Linked DNA regions of Homo sapiens: all the other regions are linked to region 3. Evidence: fine-mapped expression QTL. A gene starts in region 3. Each other region holds a variant in brackets. All regions are shown on one strand. Distances are from middle to middle. Region 1 overlaps CA5B (carbonic anhydrase 5B). Region 2 overlaps AP1S2 (adaptor related protein complex 1 subunit sigma 2). Region 3 holds the start of ZRSR2 (zinc finger CCCH-type, RNA binding motif and serine/arginine rich 2).

The links. PIP is the estimated chance that this variant, and not a neighbour inherited with it, causes the effect.
Region 1: its variant is fine-mapped to the expression of ZRSR2 in blood mononuclear cells (TOPMed, PIP 0.93).
Region 2: its variant is fine-mapped to the expression of ZRSR2 in nucleus accumbens (GTEx, PIP above 0.99). The same link has a PIP of 0.9 or more in prefrontal cortex.

What each region holds. Positions count from the first base shown.
Region 1 is chrX:15,766,509-15,769,188 of GRCh38, forward strand. The region is part of intron 3 of CA5B (carbonic anhydrase 5B); the gene reads left to right. It overlaps CA5BP1-CA5B (CA5BP1-CA5B readthrough), which reads left to right. Exons shown (of 12, transcript NR_160544.1): 7 at 2,135-2,680. Among named protein-coding and RNA genes, the nearest start is that of INE2, 20 kb to the right of the region's middle. RefSeq lists an enhancer at 2,680. The variant T/C (reference allele first, on the strand shown) is at 1,668.
Region 2 is chrX:15,824,177-15,826,856 of GRCh38, forward strand. It overlaps AP1S2 (adaptor related protein complex 1 subunit sigma 2), which reads right to left. Exons shown (of 6, transcript NM_001272071.2): 6 at 1,630-2,680. Among named protein-coding and RNA genes, the nearest start is that of AP1S2, 29 kb to the right of the region's middle. The variant G/A (reference allele first, on the strand shown) is at 1,064.
Region 3 is chrX:15,789,404-15,792,083 of GRCh38, forward strand. ZRSR2 (zinc finger CCCH-type, RNA binding motif and serine/arginine rich 2) reads left to right here and starts at 1,081. Exons shown (of 11, transcript NM_005089.4): 1 at 1,081-1,133; 2 at 1,531-1,610. The coding sequence starts at 1,093. RefSeq lists enhancers at 959-1,408, 2,067-2,568.

The DNA of each region.
Region 1 (2,680 bases), 23 kb before region 3:
TCATGGGCATCTTTCTTTTCCCCCCTTTTTTTGCGTTGTTATTTATTTAAATTTTATATTTGTGAATTCACAGGTTGATGTGTTTCATTATATTGTTTCTAATTCTCTTAAAGTAACTTACTATACAAGTAAAAGCTTCTTGTACCACATAAAACCATCTCATGTGCCATCCTTTGGGAAACATTGTTTAAGGCCATCTGGGTCTGTTGGTGGAATAGCTAGAGAAGGGAGGAATAAAAAAGATAAGAAAGAAAAATGATACTGATATATGTTCTTTTAAAATATATTTAGTGGGTATAAGTTTAGTTTTGTTTTGTTACATGGATATATTGTGTAGCGGTGAAGTCTGGGCTTTTATTATACCCCTCATCATGCATCTTTCTTAATTTCCCCAAAACTCTAGAGTGTGCCCCCTTCTCAACTGGAAGTCCATAATATTACCTTGTTTATACGGATTCCAGAAATCTTCAAAACAACAAGCTAAATTCCTGTGTTCTGGATGACTGTCTGGCACTCTGGTGAGCTCTACTTGTCCCCCATGGGGCTCTACCATTATCCTTGCCAGACGTAAACTAATGGGCAGACCCAGTCTATAGGATACCAACCCTCATCCATTTACTCTGCATGCATAGTAATCCTTTTGAATTCTCAACCCCATCTAGGGCCCTAGCAGCCTGCTTTCTTCTGGGGATCCTTGGTATTGGTCAGCTTTCTAAAGCCCTTGACAGTATAGGGACTGTCTGTTGCCAATATATCATTGCTTCATTGAGTTGGAAGTCTTAGAAAGTTGCTTAATGAGTTTCTTAACTAAGTGACTTGAGCCCAAGAACTTTCAGGGTAAATAGCTGTTTTATCTTTTAGTCCTCTCTTTTTCTTTTGAACAATAGATTCTAGAATTTTTTTTTTTTTTTGAGACAGAGTCTCGCTCTGTTGTCCAGGCTGGAGTGCAGTGGCATGATTGCAGCTCACTGCAGCCTCAACCTCCTGGACTCAAGCAATCCTCCCACCTCAGCCTCCCGAGTAGCTGGGACCACAGGCATGTGCCACCACGCTCGGCTAATTTTTTTGTTTGTTTGTTTGTTTTTGTTTTTGTTTTTAAGACGGAGTTTTGCTCTTGTTGCCCAGGCTGGAGTGCAATGGCGTGATCTCGGCTCACTGCAACCTCTGCCTCCCGGGCTCAAGTGATTCTCCCACCTCAGCCTCCTGAGTAGCTGGGATTACAGGTGCCTGCCACTACACCCTGCTAATTTTCGGTATTTGTAGTAGAGACAGGGTTTCACCATGTTGGCCAGGCTGGTCTCGAACTCCTGACCTCAGGACCTCAGGTGATCCACCTGCCTCGGCCTCCCAAATTGCTGGGATTACAGGTGTGAGCCACTGCACCTGGCCTTTTTTTTTTTTTTTTTTTGAGATGGTGTCTCACTCTGTCGCCCAGGCTGGAGTGCAGTGGCGTGATCTTGGCTCACTGCAACCTTCACCTCCTGGCTTCAGGCAATTATCCCGCCTCAGCCTCCTGAGTAGCTGGGATTACAGGCACATGCCATCACACCTGGCTAATTTTTGTATTTTAGTAGAGACGGGTTTCACCATGTTGGCCAGGCTGGTCTCAAACTCCTGACCTCAAGTGATCTGCCCACCTTGGCCTCCCAAAGTGCTGAGATTATAGG[T/C]GTGAGCCACTGCTCCCAGCTCCGGCAAATTTTTGTATTTTTTGTAGAGATGGGGTTCCTGAGATCAAGTGATCCTCCCACCTCGGCCTCCCAAAGTGCTTGGATTATAGGTATGAGCCACCGAGCCAGGCCTCAAGAATTCTTATCTACCCATTTGCATGAGTAATCTTAGATGGAAAACAAGTCATCAACGTTTTTGTCATAATAGCTTCTTTTTAGATACCTACAAACCCAACTGACTAAATCACCCCTTGAACCTGTCTTCCCTGGGAGTGTCAGTCACACACTTACAAAATATGCAAGAAAACTTGTAGAGAGTTTGCTAATTTTTTTGTTTGGTTAGAAAGAACTAAAACTGATAGCCCTTTTAAATTATGCTTTAATAATTATTTTCTTTAAGATAGCATCAATTTTTAGTAATTACCTAATTTTCTCTCTCTCTCTCTCTCTCTTTTTCCACCTTTCAGTGACTGCCTCTTATTTCCTGTTTATTCTTTGCTGCTATTTCTCCATGTTGTTGCAAAACAATCAATAGCATGCAAAGAGGAAAAAAAGAGTGAATGAACATAAAAAATAAAAAGTGAAAGAAAGCAAGACATTTTAGAAACAAAGGCAAGAAACAATTCTAGAAAAGTAAAAACCTAATAAATATCGATGTCTATAAATTTCAAAGACAAAACCCTAAGAAATGCTGCCACAGTGTGCTTTGTGAGGATTGGAATAAAGTGCAAGGAAAAGGAGCTGGGGAAGGTATGTGACAAAAACATCATACCAGTCCTTTTGGGATGCAGCTAAAGCAGTGCTTAGAGGGAAATGTATAGATGAAAATGCCTACAATAGAGAAGAACTTTCTCAAGTCAGTATCTCAGCTTTCCGCCTTAAGAAACTAGAAAAAGAAGAACAAACTAAACCCAAAAGCAAGTAGAGAGAAGGGCATAATAAAGAACGAGCAGAAATCAATGAAATCAAAAGTTGGTTCTTTGGGAAGATCAACAAAGTTCACAAACTTTTAA
Region 2 (2,680 bases), 35 kb after region 3:
AAATTTTATGTGTTCATATATTTAATGTTTTTTTATTCTTGTTGGCCCCCTACCCCTTTTTTTAGAGACAGGGTCTTGCTATGTTGCCCAGACTGGAGGGCAGTGGCTGTTCACATGATCATTGTGCACTGTAGCCTCAAACTCCTGGGCTCAAGCGATCTTCTTGGCTCAGCCTCCTGAATATCTGAAACTACAGGTGAGCCCTGCTTGTTTGCCTTTTATTAATAATCTATTGGATTTTTCTATATGTAATAGCTGAACAGCTTTTTTGCTTTAAAGTTCATTTTCTCAGTTTTAAAGTACTGATGGGCAAAGTCCATTTTTTTTCCTCCTACTCTTCAGCTGGGGGCTGTCGTGTACTTTTTTAAATAGTGTGTTGGAAAGTTCTTTATATAGGAGTAAAGTTTATTTTTGTCATTTCCAGGAATATTAGGGTCATTGGTACTAAATATGCCTAGTGTTAAAGCAATCCTGGTATAAAAATCTCAACAGAATGGTCAGAGAATAGAACCTAATGCAGAAAAAGCTTCAGGCAAAATATTATACCTAGATTTCTGATCATAAATAAGATGCTCTCCAGCTTTATCAATTTTTTGTCGCTTTCTTTCCATTGACATATTTGGGATCTAGAATTTTGGAGTATGTGACATTTTTCAATTTGAGATTTGGGAATAAGGACTTAAAACATACGTAAAATACTGAAACGTTAACGAAATTTAAGTAGGAAGAAAGTTTCCTCAAAATTGGAATTTCTGCATGATATCTGTTAAGGATGAGAGTTCTTTCATGTGTAGTCAATAAAAGAAATCATGCATGTGGCCCAGGATAATTTCACTTTAAAAAGTTGGATTTGTTCCAGACTCTAAATGCCTGCTTCACCCTGAAAATGATTGACCTAGAACTATCTACTGATTTCAGTAACGCCGAGTAATTATCATTAAATTCAGTATTTTTTAATACTTTTCTAAATACAGTCAAGATATATGCAATTAAATGTGGTCTGCAAAGCTGAAATCTTAATAAATCATGGAGGCTAAGAAAGAAAACCACCATCTTGAGCTCA[G/A]GACAACTGAGATATTGATGACTTTCCCCTCAAATGTTAATAGGCAGGGTAGAAGGGCAGGAAGTTTTTAAACCACTGACTGGTTCATTATCCTGATAAATGTCCATCTTGAACTTAAATTTATTAGTTTTTTTTAATATATATTGCCTGATTACTATTTATGTTTCAAAAATTCCAACTATACATTGCTAGCAGAAACCCACAGGCCTGTTTTCAGTGAATAGCTAGCTGCATGTTGGAGGCTTTTTAAACCTATAAACGTCTTTTTTTCCAGTAGACTAGCAACTTAATTTGATGGTAGTTCCTGCCTCCTTCTTAAATAGCCCAGTTTTAGAATGTAACATTTCCTATCTGTAGTAATAGGAGGTCCCTTAACTATCATGATTACCATAGATTTGATTTGTTGCATAGGTTAGGTAGTACAGTCTGCAAGTATTAGTCCCTTTCTGTTGCATGTGCTAGCACCTTCAGTTCACAAGGGGGTAAGAGGAATCCAGTTGATTTGAAATACCTTTTGAGTAACAGTCTAAGTTGTTCATTCAGAAAGAGTAGAAAAGTCAACTGCATCAAGGTTTTAAAAGCAGCATTTATTGATTGAAAATAAATGTGTAGATAGGCTCTCAGTATGGAATCCATGTTATTTTTTAATGAAGTACATGAAGACTCCTTAGATCTTCCACCATGTATCTTGTGTGTGCTTATAACAACCACCATATTCAAATGGAGGGGAATTTTCAACATTTTACTGAAAAAAAAATGAGAAATTCTTCCTTCAGCAGCTCTGCATAGTTTGACAAACTTTTGGAAAGAGATAAAAACACACTCCAGTGTTTGTACGTTGAACGTTTATTACAACTAATTGGCGATGTGATAAGACAGTGCTCACGTGGCCTGAATGTTGGTCACAATCACAACAAAGCTTAATCCAGCCCAGCATATATAAGTGAAAATATAAACCATGAAGACATGTTTAGATATGTATAAGTACTTAGAAAAGTGACGCTGAACAATTACATAGCTTTAAAAAATATAGAGCCATCTAATGCCATTTTACCTCATTCAACTCTTTTTTGTAAGAAATGTGTCTTTTTAAATTTTTATAAGACTTCTGTTAACTAGGCAGTGCCATGGAAAGAAAGGAAGCTGCTGTAAAGTGTGCAGCACTTCTAAGTGGAGGGAAGCAAAATAAATTTAGCTTTAACAAGTACCCCAGAGGGAACATTCGTGCTTTAAACAATGACTTTACACATAATACTGTGAAGAGAGCAACACGTTTTTTGTAAGATACTGTTATGAAGAATTCCTGGCAAATTACCATTCTCACTTTATTTTGGGGCATCAAAAACAACTAAGTATTTGATTATGACCACAAAAAATTCATCTCAGGAGTCAAATGTGCCTTGGCCTTAAAAATTATGTGCTTACTATTGTGAAACAATCCTGTTTCTCATCCCAGATTCAGAATGCCTAAGAAATAATTTTTAGTGTAAGAAGTATCACTCCAATTTAGTCATTAAAAATAATCTGTAGTCCTTTAAAAAAAAAAAAAAAAGGTATGTAATTTCCAATACAAGTCTTTGGAGTAAATTTGCTTTTTAAAGTTTCAACAAAGTTTCC
Region 3 (2,680 bases):
GCTGGGATTACAGGCGTGAGCCGCTGCACCCAGCCTCGAACTGCACTTTAAATTGGATAGCTGGGCGGGCGTGGTGGCTCGCGCCTGTATTCCCAGCTACTCGGGAGGCTGAGGTGGAAGGATTGCTTGACCCCAGGAGGTCGAAGCTGCAGCGAGTCGTGATTGCGCCACTGCACTCCAACCTGGGTGAAAGACAAGACCCTGTCTCTAATATATAAGAAATGAATAAATAAATAAATTCGATTGCCAAAATTCTTGCTGTTCCCAGCATATTCCACTTTCACCTTTCAGCGCCTTTGCTTATGCTGATCTGACTGTAACTGCATTCCCACCCTTCTCCTTCTGGGTAAAGGGCATCTTCTTTCCAAACTCAACTCTTAGCATCAGAAAGCTGTCCCTGATACTGCAGTTGAGTCGCATGTGATACTGAAAAAAAAAGAAAAAAGGAAAAAAAAGAGAGCTCTCCCTGAATCCCTTGGTGGACTATGTTAGGTAAACTTCATCTTTGCCTGCATCATATTATGTATTGGTTCTTCTCTGCCCCCTCGATTGTAAACTCCTCAGGGGCAGAGGTAACAGCTTTGCAGCCCTGGGAGTTAGGTTTGCTTAAGGGACCAGAACAGGTGTGACTGGCAGGGAGCGAAGTCTGGAGCTTTGTCTGAGGCGCTGATAGGTGGATCGGCGGAAGGACGCGGAACCTGGACAGGTCGGAAATAAAGCCGGGCGAGCAGCTCTGTGCGCGATGTGACTTCATGAGTGGATGCTGAGAAAAGCGGCAGAGTACGACTTTAACCGCCTAGCCACAACACGTCCTGCTAGGGCGAGGAGGGAGACAGTGATACAGCACTGGGCAAGTGCTGAAGCGACAATTACTTCTAGGGCGGGGTAAAAGCCCCAGAGTATTTTTGCTGGAAGGAGGTATTTATTTGAGCAGGGTTCTGGAAGACGAGCCGCCGAAGGGTACCTCCGGCTTTCCGTTTCAAGTCCCACGCTGGTGGAGGTTGCTCGGTACCCGCGCCTGCGCGTGCCCGTCTCGACTCTTAGGCCCGCCCTTTCCTGCCAGACCTGGAGGGGCGGGGCGGTGCCGGCAAGATGGCTGCGCCCGAGAAGATGACGTTTCCCGAGAAACCAAGGTAAGCGCCGTACGGGGAGATGAGCAGGCGAGCGGGCCGATCGTGGGCATGGAGGATGTGGTGGCAGGAAGAAAAGAGAAGCTGGGCCAAGCTAAGTGAGCCACCGCGGCAGCTCCATTCCTTCCTGGTGCGCGCTCTGGTGCCCTCCCCGGACTTGCACGGGCGGCTGTGGCTCAGGCAAGCGAGGAGAGGATCAGGTTGGCGGATGGAGAAGAACTGTCTGGGAGTGGGAGGATGAGGCGATGATAGATGGCTGTTCTGTAATTAAAATACAGGAAGCAAGGTTTCTCTCCTCAGCACCCGAACTATTTCCTTTCATTGGGCACAGAGGAGCGGGGAGCTCGGGCAGCGCTGCATTGTAGCCGCTGATCGTCGTGTATATGTCTTAATCTTCCAGCCACAAAAAGTACAGGGCCGCCCTGAAGAAGGAGAAACGAAAGAAACGTCGGCAGGAACTTGCTCGACTGAGAGACTCAGGTGATGGACTCTTTATTCTGTTTTCTGTGTTGTGAAATTGCTCTGTCCACTCCAGCCCTAACTTGAAGCCCCAGTGTCAGAAGGAAGTCAAATATTGTGTCGGAGGAAAAATAGCTGTGACTTCTGCCCCCAAGTAGTTATTTAGAAACACATGTCAGAAACAATGTTAACATACTAAAGGCAGGAAGAGGAAGTCTTGGTGAATGATCGCCCACTGATTCTGTGTAACTTATAAAGTATCTAATATTACAGTTGCAAGCTTCATGAATTACAGCAGCTAGCACAGTCCTTGCACACGTAGTAAGTATTCGGTGAATGTTTTTCTTCGTAAAACCAGCAGGAGTTGAAGGTATTAATTAGACGTTTTGCAAGTTTTTCTCAAACTTGACTAATATGAGACCCTTGGTTTACCCAAATTATTATGTTATTCAAATATATATCAACATAATACTAGTTATGAAGCTCATTTATTTATTTTTGAGACAGGGTCTTGTTCTGTTGCCCAGGAGGGATGTGCACAACCACGGCTCACAGCAGCCTCCACCTCCCAGGCTCAAGCAGTCCTCCCACCTCAGCCTCCCTAGTAGCTGGGACTACAGGCATTCACCACCACACCTGGCTAATTTTTTCTTTTCTTTTCTTTTTTTTTTTTTTTTTTTTTGAGACGGAGTCTCGCTCTGTTGCCCAGGCTGGAGTGCAGTGGCACGATCTTGGCTCACTGCAGCCTCCGCCCCCTGGGTTCAAGCAGTTCTCCTGCTGCAGCCTCCCGAGTAGCTGGGATTACAGGCGTGCGCAACCACACCCGGCTAATTTTTGTATTTTTAGTAGAGATGGGGTGAAACCCCATCATGTTGGCCAGGCTGGTTTCGAACTTCTGACCTCAGGTGATCCACCCACCTCAGCCTCCCAAAGTGCTGGGATTAAAGGCGTGAGCTACCGCCCCTGGCCCACCTGGCTAATTTTTAAAATTTTCGTAGAGACGGGATTTCACTGTGTTGCCTGGGCTGGTCTCGAACTCCTGGCCTCAAGCAATCCTTCCACCTCGGCCTCCCAAAGTGCTGGGATTATAG